4 linked regions of the Homo sapiens genome follow. The gene in region 2 interacts genetically with the main gene of each other region. Each region holds a gene or a part of one and is shown on either strand. Other genes may lie near its edges.

Region 1 (2,551 bases), on a different chromosome or scaffold from region 2:
GTTATTTATTTTTTCAGATGGAGTTTCACTCGTTGCCCAGGCGGGAGTGCAATGGTGCAATCTTGGCTCACCGCAACCTTTGCCTCTCGGGTTCAAGCAATTCTTCTGCCTCAGACTCCTGACTAGCTGGGATTACAGGTGCCTGACACCACGCCCGGCCATCTTTTTGTATTTTTTAGTAAAGACGGGGTTTCACCCTGTTGGCCAGACTGGTCTTGAACTCCTGACCTTAGGTGATCCACCCCCTCGGTCTCCGAAAGTGCTGGGATTACAGGCATGAGGCATGGTGCTCGGCCATAAAAAAAATTTTTATTTCTTATTTAGCTTTGCATAGTGGTTTGCAGGTACCTAATTAATATCCACCTAGTGATAAAAAAAATATAGGAAATGGTGATGCAAAAAATAAATTTATCTATCTCAAAAGACTATCAACCTTCTAATTTCAGATCACCATGACTTTGTCTATTGTAGGAAGTTTTATTGAAGTTTCTTCGACAAGGTAGTAGGCCTACTGAAGGCCCCATGAACAGACAAAAAATATAAAAGGCAGCAAGCCAGATGGAAGGTATTAGTAGGTACTATTCTCCTTGGAACTGGATCTTTGAGTCAAGACAGCTGAGAAGGGCTTGATGAGGGGAGCAAGGAGAACATTAAAGCCAGCTGACTTTACTAAACAACTGTATTATCTGACTCAAGACAATCATACAATAAACAATATACTCACCTTCAATTTCTGTCCAGTTGACAGCAATTTCTGCTATTGGAATTTTAAAGAACTGTGCTATGTACAGTAGTTCTACATCAAATGCCCTAAAATAGAAAATATATTGATATTTATTTTTAAAGACAAATAGAACACAACTACATCTCTACCTTGGCATGTTTTAAAGAAGCTTACATGGCAGATATAAAGCTTATACCATAAATCTGAAGATCAGATTCACAGAAATCAAATAATTCAAAGCTGAGTAGTTCAGAAGTTTCAAGTCAAATAATAATTTAGAATATCATTGCATAATATTGTATCTCTATTACAACTCAGAAACTCACAGAGGTAAAACTAGCCTCATGGGTTCCAAGAAAAAATTTAATCCTGGAAAATTTCAAGATTGATGGTTTTCAATCCTAACCTTAACTGGACTAGCTCAAGGTAAAGAACTGACATTTTCAACTGATTCAGACAGCTGATAAAACAAAACTCTGAGATGCTCTAGTTGAGACTGTTTTACATTACTTTAGAGTTGGTTGCCTATTTTCTTCTACCATCAGAGGATCCAGATTACTTTTCTAATAGTGTCCCCAGGGCCTTCCTTGTCTTTTCTGTTCCCCTTCCCTGTGGTGTCCTGCACAATATAATACTGGCAACTATTGAAAGTAAAAAGCTACTTTGGACTAGTCTGAAATACTCTTTGGGTATAATTAATACATACATAGGAATCTGATATATTGTCTTACTTGTCCTAATATATACTGTTAAAACCATTTCCAGTCTAAATCTCCAGTGTATCCTTCCTTCCACTTACGAAAGGTCTTTCTTAAAGCCTCTTTTCAGTCAGTGCCTTGGCTTAGGTCAAACCTGCTTTCCTTAAAGGTTCTGAATCCTGACTCATAAGTTTTCCTGGATTCTGCTTACAAAATTTCTCTGAACTAGTTGCTTCTCTCACTGGTATTAAAGCTCAGGAAGAAAAGCACTACTACCTGTTAAATCTTCTTCATCGTCATTGAAACTGTCTAAAGTCCTTGACTGTTTTGCCTTCATCCATGAGTCAGTCCCCACTTTCTAGGCTGCACAGAGCACAGTTCAAACTTCTAGGGCCTGGTGTAAAACATTATTAATACAGACAAGAAAATGCCTAAAGTCCACTTATATTTGATTTCTCCAATCCCAGACAACTTGAATTTGGGAGATTTTTTGGTTTTTTGCCACAATACCATAATCATCCATTAGGTAAATAGTTTAAATTCCAAGTATTATGATAAAACCACTTACAAAAGTGGGTTGTATTTTAAAACTTTCGTCCCCTAGAATTGTGATACTTATGAAAAAAGAAATAATTTCAATATTAAGCCTGGTGCTTTACCCTTAACTTTCCTTTTAACACAAAAACAAAATATTAGCTAGTGGGCTGAGTTAGTTCTAATGATACTTGATAACCTGAAAAAGATTATTATATATTATTTCTAAGGATATCAGTATATAGCTAGTGACTTATCAAATACACAAAACAATTGAGTAAAAAAGAGTGGGGTGGTTAACTGAAATCACCTTATATTAAAAAAAAAATCCTAGACCAAAAGGGTTTTTCGGTTTGTTTTAAACAGGGTCTTACTCTGTCATCCAGGCTGGAATGCAGTGGCGCAATCAGGGCTCACTGCAGCCTCAACCTCCCTGGACTCAGGTGATCCTCCCACCTTTGCCTCCTGAACATCTGGGAGCATAGGCCCAGATATTCCTTACTAGTCCTATAATTTTATCTTCTTCTTTTCTAGTTTTGTTCTTTTGAGATTTCCTCAATTTTATTATCTAGCCCTCTTTTTGAATTTTCATCTC
Region 2 (3,500 bases):
CAAAGAAGTCAACTCAGATAAAAGAAGATCTGGGATACAGAAAACAAGGACCCCAATACAAAAGCAAAGTGAAGAGAATCCTTGGAATGATACCAAAGGAAGATTCAAAGAGAACATACATGCATCAAGTCTAGACAGCAACTGCTGTCTAGATTTTCCAAAATTGAAAAAAAAAAATACCCACTTAATATGTAGAATGTATTAAAATAAGACTTATATTGATGGAGAAGAGAGTTTGATTGAATTAGTCATATGTATATAGAGCACTGAGAAAATGAAGAGAATTTTTATCTATTAGGTTTAAGGTTATAGGGAAGCTGTACCTGAAAAGACACTATAGTATACCACTTAGCTATGATTAGCACTTGCATTGTCATGTTTTAAACAGTAAATAGTTATCTAAAAAAAAGTCATGATATAACAATTCTGGAATGATAAGGGACCATGAAGGGGGTCTGTGTGTGTGTGTGTGTGTGTGTGTGTGTGTGTGTGTGTGTGTGTTAGAGAGAGAGAGAGATACGTGAAGGTATGGTGTAATGGGAAGTCCATAGGTAATGCCAAACCTGAAAAATCAAGAAGTAACAATATAACCAAAGCTATGTGGTTATAACATTTAAAATTATAAAATAACCAGCTAAAATAGTTAAATTGAAATGTATCACCTCTGGAGATCAAGACATAGAATAAACTAAAATATGCACATGTATAACTTTACTAAAATTAAAAATGGAATTAAAAACAAAGTAATAGCTATGGGACAAAATAGTTACAGATGCTATTCTCTTATAATAAAAGTTGCATATGTATTATCTAATGACCCATTTTAGAAATTATTAGGTTGTATAACTTGATATCGGCCCTTCATGTCATTTTCGAAACTTACAAAGTTGTCTCTTTGAAAAAAACATCAGTTTGGTTGATTTTGAATAGGACTTGGATAGTTAAAGGAATCACTGTTGAATGAAAATCTATGAAAAATATTTGTCAATATGGTGGTATACTCTTCAAGCTCCTCCAAGAAGCAAAATCTGTTTGTGAGTTGCTGAAACTTTACTATCTTCCTTTCTATTCCTGTCCATCACACTGCCACAGACAGCACTGTCTGGAGATGTGGAATCAAGACTGATAAAGGCCAGTAGGGAAAGCAACTAAGATTCTCCAGACCTGAACATATTGGAGGGAAAGATAGCTTATGAGGCCCTTGGATCTTTTTATTGTCCTCTTTATACTGGGAAGTTTGTGACCGTTTTTAAAGAGGGATGCCTCTTTAGCCTCCCCTATAACCTGGCCCTGTTCCAGTTCTGCAAAAACATGCCTTCTTTGGGTTCAGTTAGTGATACTGGTAAGAGTTGAACCTCTAATTGTAATGAGATCCCTTGAAGCTCAAAAGACCTTAAGACACGAAGTTATGAATTAATAACGAAAAAATCTTCATTATAGCATTTTGATCAGAGGAAGAATCACAGCCCCCTTCCTTTTTTTTTTTTTTTTTCTTTGATATAGGATCTTGTTCTATCACCCAGGCTGGAGTGCAGAGGCATAGTCATGGCTCTCTGCAGCCTTGATCTCCTGGGTTCAATTGATACTCTACCTCAGCCTCCTGAGTAGCTGGGACTACAGGCATGTGCCACCATGCACCACTAATTTTTCTATTATTTGCAGAGATGGGGTTTTGCCATGTTGTCCAAGCTAGTCTTGACTTCCTGGGCAAGTGATTCGCCCACCTTGGCCCTGCAAGGTCCTGGGATTATAGGCGTGAGCCATAGCACCCGGCTCACTTTCCCTTCTTATCACAGATTGAAGGACTACGTTGAAGGCTGGCCACTGCTCTGACCACTGCCTGCACCATAGAAGTGTTTTTTCCTACCTGACAACTTGATTATAATTTTCTCCAGTCTGCAGTGATTTTTAGGACAGCAGAGTTCAAGCATTTATTGCCCATATTAATGAAACCTATACTCTAACATCTAGCCGATACCTCTGCTAGAGAAAACTTTCTACCTATACCTAACCCCTGTCTCACCCTCCTGAAGTACACTCTCACCTGACTTCTACTTATCCTTCCATTTTCAGCTTGTCATTTTCTCTCAGAATCTGGGATAGATGCCCCATTATAGGCTTATCATTATAATTAAGCAGCTGATAACAAAGCAGTATGCTGATTGCCCATCTCTCTCTTTGGTCTATAAGACTTGTAGAGGCAGGAAAAAGCATCTATTTGTTTTTTCACTATTGGCCTTCTTGGACCGAATATAGTTCCTAGACCTGGCATCAGAGGGACTCAATAAATATTTGTTAACTTGAGTGGATTTGCTATTGTCTCTACTTCTTAAAATGTAGTCTTATATTCTCTATCACATTGTGACTGCATATGGATAAGAGGGTATGGATATAGACATCTTTCCTAAGTCTATACCATCTATATAGTACATTAGTTTCTATCTGAATGGCACAGAGTAATTATGGCAATTGCTAGTCTCCACCCCAAATGGGAATGTTAAAATCTGCAAAGTGCTTGGCTTTCTTAGACGTGAAGTTCTTGGAATCCATTAACAAATAAATGCATCTTCATTTTATAATATAGTAGGTCTAGAGATGATGAGACAACATCTAATATACTTGAGGATTGTATTAGATGAATGGCAAGTCATTTGGCACACTAAAATGCTCTTAATGTGATTTGTTTACAATCTTTCTGTTTTATTGCAGCCGGGGATCTGACAACAGACTGGCTCACCGGCGGCAGACAGTTCTCCGTGAGAAGGGGAGAAGGTTAGCTAATCGAGGACCAGCATACATGTTTAGTGATCGCTCCACAAGCCTATCTATAGAGGAGGAACGCTTTTTGGATGCAGCTGAATATGGTAACATCCCAGTGGTGCGGAAGATGTTAGAAGAATGCCACTCACTCAACGTTAACTGTGTGGATTACATGGGCCAGAATGCCCTACAGTTGGCAGTGGCCAATGAGCATCTGGAAATTACAGAACTTCTTCTCAAGAAAGAAAACCTCTCTCGAGTTGGGGATGCTTTGCTTCTAGCTATTAGTAAAGGTTATGTTCGGATTGTGGAAGCAATTCTCAGTCATCCGGCTTTTGCTGAAGGCAAGAGGTTAGCAACCAGCCCTAGCCAGTCTGAACTCCAGCAAGATGATTTTTATGCCTATGATGAAGATGGGACACGGTTCTCCCATGATGTGACTCCAATCATTCTGGCTGCCCACTGCCAGGAATATGAAATTGTGCATACCCTCCTGCGGAAGGGTGCTAGGATTGAACGGCCTCATGATTATTTCTGCAAGTGCAATGACTGCAACCAGAAACAGAAGCATGACTCGTTTAGCCACTCCAGATCTAGGATTAATGCCTATAAAGGCCTGGCAAGTCCGGCTTACCTGTCATTGTCTAGTGAAGATCCAGTCATGACGGCTTTAGAACTTAGCAATGAACTGGCAGTTCTGGCCAATATTGAGAAAGAGTTCAAGGTAGGTCACTAACAAT
Region 3 (3,500 bases), on a different chromosome or scaffold from region 2:
AAGACATTGGTATATGTTGGCTAGTGTTGGAATTTACAAAAATTTCAGCAAATTCTCAAAAAAGAGAAATAACTAACTCTAGAGGTAGTCCCCCAAGCAGACTGCTACAGTGTGTACTCCAAGTTGACATAAGACTCACGAATTTGGAAATAGATTCTGTTCATTTGTAGCAGTGAACCTAGAAATCAGAAGGCCCATGTTCTAGTCCCATAAATTCCTCAAATTAACTTGGCATTTATGCTCTTAATCTCAGCTTTCTTTGGGTTAAGAATCTTGCTTCTGGGGAGCTCATAAAGTGTTAATAGAAGCAGCAACTCCTAAAACTGGTTCTAAGCTATTTAAAGAACTGGACAAAACATTTTCCAAAGAAAAGCACACTGGAAATGAGATCTTCTAAATTCTAGCCTTTAAAAATCTTTTGCTTTCCTTATGGCTTTGGCTAGGATACAAAGAAAAGTATGTTTACCCTTACTAAGGAACATAGTAAATTTAAATCATGTCTTAATGTAAAAATAAATTGTAAAAATTTCACATAACAGTAAGTAAAAGCCAAAAGTAGAATATGTGAATCGGCTGGGTGCGGTGCCTCACGCCTGTAATCCCAGACTTTGGGAGGCCGAGGCAGGCAGATCACCTAAGGTTGGGAGTTCAAGACCGCCTGACCAACATGGAGAAACACCACATCTACTAAAAAAAAAAAAAAAAAAAAAATTGCTGGGCGTGGTGGCGCATGTAATCCCAGCTACTCGGGAGGCTGAGGCAGGAGAACTGCTTGAACCTGGGAGGCGGAGGTTGTGATGAGCCGAGATCGCGCACCATTGTACTCCAGCCTGGGCAACAAGAGCAAAAGTCTCTCTCAAAAAAAAAAAAAAAATCATGAGAATCATGGAAGGTTATCTAATGCTATGATTTTTATTCTCCTCCACATGTGCTTTCACACTGAGAGGAGCCACTAGGGGAAAGGCTGAGTATGTAGAGAAAAGGCGTAATAAGGTGGTATCTCAAAGGAGGTGGAGGATTAACACTGAAAAGAAGATCCTTAACGCAGTGTTTGAGCTAACAATTTAAAAAAATTTTAAAGAAAATACTGTATAGAAGACAGAATATTTCTTCCTTGAAGAACAGAGATAAAAACATAAGAATAGGGAGAAGATGGGCAAATCCCGGCATTTGCCAATCCTGGTATTTTGCCATGTTCTTTATGCAACGTGGAAAAAATGTTAAAGAGTGTTAGGCTTGTTTGGCTATTTTTCTCATCAGGTAAGTAATTTCCTGGATGCGAAGAGCGATTTGGAAGAGCCTGAATAAGCACTGTATTTGTGGCACTAATCCCAGAATTGGGGTGAGAAGGGGACAGAATGACAAATATTTGTTGAATACTTAATAAATTCCAGGCACTATCACACAATTTACATTTCTCAAAATAAACTAGATACCATTAACCCTACTACAGTCAAGAAACTTGGGTATTCAGGTTACAGATTTATCTAAGACTCCAAGTAAAAACTGCCTGAACCCCAAAGTGTGTTTTCTTCATTATCCCACACCTCCTACCTAAGTGTGAGTAACATCAAGAGTATTCTGGGCCGGGTACAGTGGCTCACGCCTGTAATCCCAGCACTTTAGGAGGCCAAGGTGGGCAGATCGCCTGATCTGGCCAACATGATGAAGCCCCATCTCCACTAAAAAAAAAAGTCCAAAAATTAGCCAGCATGATGACACACACCCGTAATCCCAACTACTCGGGAGGCTGAGCTTATAGTGATCCAAGACTGCACCACTGCTCTCCAGCCTGGGTGACAGAACGAGTAAGACTCTGTCTCAATAAATAAATAAATAAATAAATAAATAAATAAGTATTCTGCTTTGCACTTGTGTTCACAGGATTAGAGATCTTAAAGAGAATATCTGAAAATCAAATAACAAAGAAGTTAAAGATATAGATGAGAGAAGAATTAAAGCTGCCAACACAGGGTCTAGGCAGGAGGAAGGGAAATGAAACCTTGAAGAACAATGAAATGGAAGAATATCTTGATATCAAAAAACATATATAGGCTGGGCACGGTGACTCATGCCTGTAATCCCAGCACTGTGGGAAGCCGAGGCGGGCGGATCATGAGGTCAAGAGATTGAGACCATCCTGGCAAATATAGTGAAACCCCGTCTCTACTAAAAATACAAAAATAAATTAGCTGGGTGTAGTGGCGCATGCCTGTAATCCCAGCTACTTGAGAGGCTGAGGCAGAAGAATCGCTTGAACCCGGGAAGCGGAGGTTGCCGTGAACCAAGATTGCGCCACTGCACTCTAGCCTGGGCGACAGAGTGAGATTGCGTCTCAAAAAAAAAAAAAAAAAAGCATATATATTAGAAATAAAAATAAATATTTTTTAAAAAATACAAAAATTAGCCAGGTATGATACTGTACATCTGTAGTCCCAGCTACTCGGGAAGCTGAGCGCACTCCACCGAGTGCTTGAGCAAGGGGGTTGGGCTGCAACCGTGCCACTGCACTCCAGCCTGGACAACAGAGGAAGACTCTTTTTTATTTTTTTCCCCAGACGAAGTCTCACTCTGTCGCCCAGGCTGGAGTGCAATGGTGCAATCTTGACTCACTGCAACCTCTGCCTCCTGGCTTCAAGTGATTCTCCTGCCTCAGCCTCCCGAGTAGCTGAGATTACAGGTGTGTGCCATCACGCCTGGCTATTTTTTTTTTGTATTTAGTAGAGACGGGGTTTTACCATGTTGGCCAGGCTGGTCTCAAACTCCTGACCTCAGGTGACCCACCCACTTTGGCCTCCCAAAGTTTTGGGATTACAGGCGTGAGCCACCACGTCTGGCAGACTCTGTCTAAAAAAAGAGTTGGGCACGGTGGCTCATGCCTGTAATCCCAGCACTTCGGGAGGCCGAGGTGGGCGGATCACCTGAGGTCTGGAGTTCGAGACCAGCCTGGCCAACATGACAAAACCCCGCCTCTACTAAAAATACAAAAAGCAGCCAACTATGGTGGCACACGTCTGTAATCTCAGCTACTCAGGAGGCTGAGGTAGGAGAATGGCTTGAATGGCTCGAACCTGGGAGGCAAAGGTTGCAGTGAGCCGAGATCGTGCCACTGCACTCCAGCCTGGGTGACAGAGCAAGACTCCATCTCAAAAAAAAAAATTTGGCCGGGCGTGGTGGTGGGCACCTGTAATCCCAGCTAATGAGGAGGCTGAGGCAGAATCGCTTGAACCCAGGAGGCAAAGGTTGCAGTGAGCCGAGATTGCATCATTGCATCCCAGCCTGAGCAACAGAGCGAGAGACTGTCTCAAAAAAAAGTTTAAGTCTGGTAATAAATTTCAGTATTTAGACATGAAAGAGGACTGTTACGTTGGTGGTAACTGTCTATATAGAAGGCACGGTCAGGTTCCAGAGGAAGAATCACTTCTGCTCTTGGTAGAAACACATAATGGGCAACAGGAAATGCAAAGAATGCTGAATGGTGTGAATTTACTAAGAGGCAA
Region 4 (4,270 bases), on a different chromosome or scaffold from region 2:
CCATCAGAGCTCTTGAGTGACCAGGTGCACTGTCAGGAATAGTATTTTGAAGATAATCTTTTTTTCTGAGCAGTAGGTCTCAACAGTGGGCTTATATTCAGTAAACCATGCTGTACACAGATGTGCTGTCATCCAGGTTGTTTTTCCATCTCTAGAGCTCAGAGTAGATTTAGCATAATTTTTAAGGGCCCTAAGATTTTCTGAATGATAAATGAGAACTGGCTTCAACTCAGTCAACTTAAAGTGACCGACATTAGCCCCTAACAAGAGTCGCCCTGTCCTTTGAAGCCAGTCATTGACTTCTCTCTAGCTGTTTACGTTGTATATGGCATCATCTCCTCCCAATACCGTATAAGGCTATTTTACGTACCTTGTAAATCTATTGCTTAATTTAGGAGCCACTTTCATCTTGATCTTAGCTAGATCTTCTGGAGACCTTGCTGCTTCACCTTGTGCTTTTCTGTTATGGAGACAGGTTATTTACTTCAATCTCATGAACCAACCTCTGTTAGCTCCCAATTTTTCTTCTGCAGCTTCCTCACTGCTCTCAGCCTTCATAAAACTGAAGAGTTAGGACCTTGCTCTGGATTAGGCTTTGGCTTAAAGGAATGTTATGGCTGGTTTGATCTTCTATCCAAACCACTAAAACTTTCTCCATATCAGCAGTAAGGCTTTTTCACTTTATCATTCATTGTGTTCAACAGAGCAGCACTTCTAATTTCCTTTAAGAACTTTTCCTTTGCATTCACAACTTGGCTAACAAGAGACCCAGCTTTCAGCCTATCTTGACTTTCAACATTCCTTCCTCACTAAACTTAATCATTTCTAGCTTTTGATTTGAAGTGGGTAGAGTGCAACTCTTCACTTCAACACTTGAGCCCACTGTACAGTTACTATTGGCCTAATTTCAATGTTGTTTTGTCTCAGGGAAGAGAGAGGCCGGGAGAGAGATGGGGAAACAGCCAGTCAGTGAAGCACACACAACATTTATTAGGACTACCATCTTTTATGGGCATAGTTTGTGATGCCCCAAAATAATTACAATAGTAACATCAAAGATTACTGATCATAGATCACAGTAATAGATTAAAATGTAAGAGAGAGACACGAAGCGAGCAAAAATGGTGCCAACAGACTTGCTTCCATGCAGGGTTGCTTGTAAAAAACTTGTAAACTTGTAAAAAATGCAAGATCTGCGAAGTGAAGCTCAATAAAGCAAAGCGCGCGGGAAACTGAGGTGTGCCTTTATGTTCTGCTTTAGCAGACACTAGGTGGCGAGCGTTATTTGAACGTTTACAGGAGGCCCTGTGTATCTGCGGCTGCATATCCATGGATTCGACCAACCAGGAATACAAAATATTTGAAAAAAATAACAATAAAAAATGACGATTTAAAAATACAAGTAAAAAAAATCAGTGTAACTATTTGTGCAGCACTTACATTGCATTAGGTACTATAAGTAACCTTGAGATGATTTAAAAGTTATGAGAGGCTATGCATACATTAAATGCAAATACCACGCCACCTTATAGTAGGGACTTGAGCATCCGAGGATTCTGGTATCTGCAGCGGGGCCTGGAACCAATCCCCTCCAGATACCAAGGGAAGAATGACCATACGTGAGTGAGCCTGTATTTGCAACGTTTTGGTCTGCTTAAGCCAAACATCAACTCTTACTGGGCGGTGTCACCAATAGTTTTACGAAATCAAGCTACATGTATATTCACCACTTATTTTTTTTCTCACATTCATTCTTTTAGCTTAACTTTCTTCCAAAATTATCCTCAATCTAATTACAAAAGCAGCAGCTAACTTTATTAAGGGTTACACATCAGGTATTTTGCTAAGCACTTCACCTGCAGTATCAAGTTTAACCTTTTAAGACAAGGAAACTGCAGAGACAGAGAGAGGAACAAGGTCAAAGAGCTAACAAGCAGAGAGGCCGGGTCTGAACTCAGGCCCTGCTCTTAGCCGGCTACTATCTCGTCTCCATCGGCGACTCAGGCTCCTGGCGCTTTCAACACAATGGTATTCCAAGACTTCTCGCAGCAGTTCTTCCAAGCGGGCATTCGGTGTAAAACGATGGAATGCCGAGTGTTCCTAGGTTCTCATTTCTCCCTTCGCTCTCCTCAGACATTAGAAATATCTAATTTACCGGGTAGGAAAGCACTCAAGAGGTTTCCTCAACACTACCTAGGAGGAGTGACAGGTGGCACTGTTCAAAAACCCTTTTCCTTCATTAGAGGGAAAGCCAAAATCTGACCTTTCAAAGCTCCACCAACGAGCCTTTCCCCTTTTAACGCATACACTTTTCCCTCCTAATTCCGCAGCAGCAAGTCAGGCCTTCTTCCTCAAGCTCTCACTGCACGTTCTCAAGGCTGCCAAGAAAAGAAAAAATAGAAGAGAAAAAAACAAGCCCGCAAAGACTCAACTGTGTGTGCTCTCAACTAACACGGCGCCGGCGCTGCCTTTACTGATGCTGGGAAGGCTTCTCTTCACGACTTCACGCGTGAGAGTGGGCAGCGGGCGCAGGGCGCGGCACTCCGCGGGACCCACAGGGGGGCTCACGGTGGAGGCCCCGGGCCCGGCTCCCCCGCCAGGCTCCCTGCCCCAGCCCCGCCGGACGACGCGGGCCCGGGAGCAGGAACGCGGGACGCTGCTGACGGCCCGGGTCCCCAGACTCACGTTTGTACTCGGCCATCAGCCTCTTGAGCGCGGTCCCCGCCATGGCCCCGCAACAGCTGCGCCGAGCGACCTCGCCTCAGCCGCGCGCGTGCCTCCTGCCCCGACACCGGGGACTGCTTCCGGGCCACCGTCGCGGGCCCAGGAACTCTTCCGGGGCGTGGCGCGTGCGCGATCGCCGAGGCGCGCTGTCCGGGTGGTGGGAGCTCAACCCGCGACCGCGGCTACGATTCTCTTGGCTCCTGCCCTCGCCTTAGTCGCTCTGCGGGGTTGGTTCGGTCCCGGCACTTCCAGAGGCCTCAGGGTCCTGGTCTTGTAGAGACTTCCTGAACGGTGGCGCCTGTTCCAGTGTGTGTGCGCTAACTGCCTGTTCTGTGCCAGCCGCGCGTGGCCGAAGGGCGGGAGGACGGGGGTTGTGGAGGGGAGGATGGAGGTTGGGGAGACAGGGCGGGGACGAGATAAGAGGTCGGGGGGTGGGGAGGATGGTCGCGGGGCGGTCTGGGGCTGGAGACAAGGGGCCTGAGGTGCGGGTACGCACTGAACATTCCAACCGTCCCCAGCCGGCCGGGTTTCAGGTTTGAAAAGGTGGGAAGGTTAGCTGTCCTGGCGCTTTTCCTCCACGTGTTGTGCGGCTCCGCTGGAGTTCGGGTCCAGCACCTTCTACTCCGAGGGAGAGAGCCGCGGGGAGAGCCCTGTTCGGGCCCGCGGCTCGAACTGACCGCCGGCTCTGCCGAGCAGCCTCGACCCCAGGGCACCCCCGGGAGAGAGGGCGCGGCTCAGGTCCCTGCCCGAACCCCTGGGGTGCTGAGAGACTCCCCAGCGCCCCGCGTGGGCTCCCGGCCTCTCCACAGTTGAGGATCCTGTAAGGGGCGAGCCCTTTTTCCCATAATGGCTGTAGTGAGTGGGTGTGCTTTCCCGATTGACCCGCTGTGAGGTGAGCGATTTTAACCCACATCCTTACTGACTTCACAGCACAGTAGGTGCTTCGTGGCTGTCCGGTGCAAGGATGTATATACACACACACCTTTGCAAAAAAAGTTTGCATCTCTTGCCTGGCTGTTTGTTGCAATAATCTATCATTTGTCTTTTCCTTTCCAGCATTGCAGATGATCCCTTGAAAAGAAGTCTGATCACATTCACACTCTGCTCCGCCCATTTCACTCAGTAAAGCTGAAGTCCTGCAGTGCTTTGCTCTGCCTCCGGTCACCCCGCCATACTCCCAGACCCTCCCTCCCTCTCACTCCACTCCAGCTGCCCTGGCCTGGTTCAGAGTCCCTGACTCTTCCCTCCCCGGAAACACTTTCTGGCGGCTCTTGTCCCCGACTCTTCCCACCTGCTCTTTCAGTCTTTGCTCAAATGTTGCCTCTTCAGTGTGGCCTAGGCCGTCACCACCCGGCCTTCACCGCATACCTTTTTCTCTGCAACACCTACTCAACACACCGTACTATAGAACTTACTGGCATGCTATAAATGTATTACCCTTATCTGTTGCCTCTAACCAAAAGCGTGTTCCATGAGAGCCATGGGTCCCTGCCTACTTCTGTCTTGTTTCTGGGGCAGCCTCTGTACCTGGACATCGTATACTCTT

Evidence for each region. A genetic interaction does not mean that the proteins touch.
Region 1: changes in TRPC6 (region 2) and ALG5 together harm fitness less than expected from each alone (positive genetic interaction), as found in Homo sapiens cells (one large-scale study listed by BioGRID).
Region 3: changes in TRPC6 (region 2) and METAP2 together harm fitness less than expected from each alone (positive genetic interaction), as found in Homo sapiens cells (one large-scale study listed by BioGRID).
Region 4: changes in TRPC6 (region 2) and UBE2G2 together harm fitness less than expected from each alone (positive genetic interaction), as found in Homo sapiens cells (one large-scale study listed by BioGRID).

The regions. Positions count from the first base shown.
Region 1 is NC_000013.11:36,951,790-36,954,340, forward strand, and holds part of ALG5 (dolichyl-phosphate beta-glucosyltransferase), read right to left. Parts: intron 811-2,551; coding exon 725-810; intron 1-724. UniProt on the Homo sapiens protein: Dolichyl-phosphate beta-glucosyltransferase that operates in the biosynthetic pathway of dolichol-linked oligosaccharides, the glycan precursors employed in protein asparagine (N)-glycosylation.
Region 2 is NC_000011.10:101,504,008-101,507,507, reverse strand, and holds part of TRPC6 (short transient receptor potential channel 6), read left to right. Parts: intron 1-2,709; coding exon 2,710-3,484; intron 3,485-3,500. UniProt on the Homo sapiens protein: Forms a receptor-activated non-selective calcium permeant cation channel. Probably is operated by a phosphatidylinositol second messenger system activated by receptor tyrosine kinases or G-protein coupled receptors.
Region 3 is NC_000012.12:95,505,152-95,508,651, reverse strand, and holds part of METAP2 (methionine aminopeptidase 2), read right to left. Parts: intron 1-3,500. UniProt on the Homo sapiens protein: Cotranslationally removes the N-terminal methionine from nascent proteins. The N-terminal methionine is often cleaved when the second residue in the primary sequence is small and uncharged (Met-Ala-, Cys, Gly, Pro, Ser, Thr, or Val).
Region 4 is NC_000021.9:44,799,021-44,803,290, forward strand, and holds the start of UBE2G2 (ubiquitin-conjugating enzyme E2 G2), read right to left. Parts: upstream 2,801-4,270; 5' UTR 2,729-2,800; coding exon 2,686-2,728; intron 2,379-2,685; exon of another isoform or gene 2,264-2,378; intron 1-2,263. UniProt on the Homo sapiens protein: Accepts ubiquitin from the E1 complex and catalyzes its covalent attachment to other proteins. In vitro catalyzes 'Lys-48'-linked polyubiquitination. Involved in endoplasmic reticulum-associated degradation (ERAD).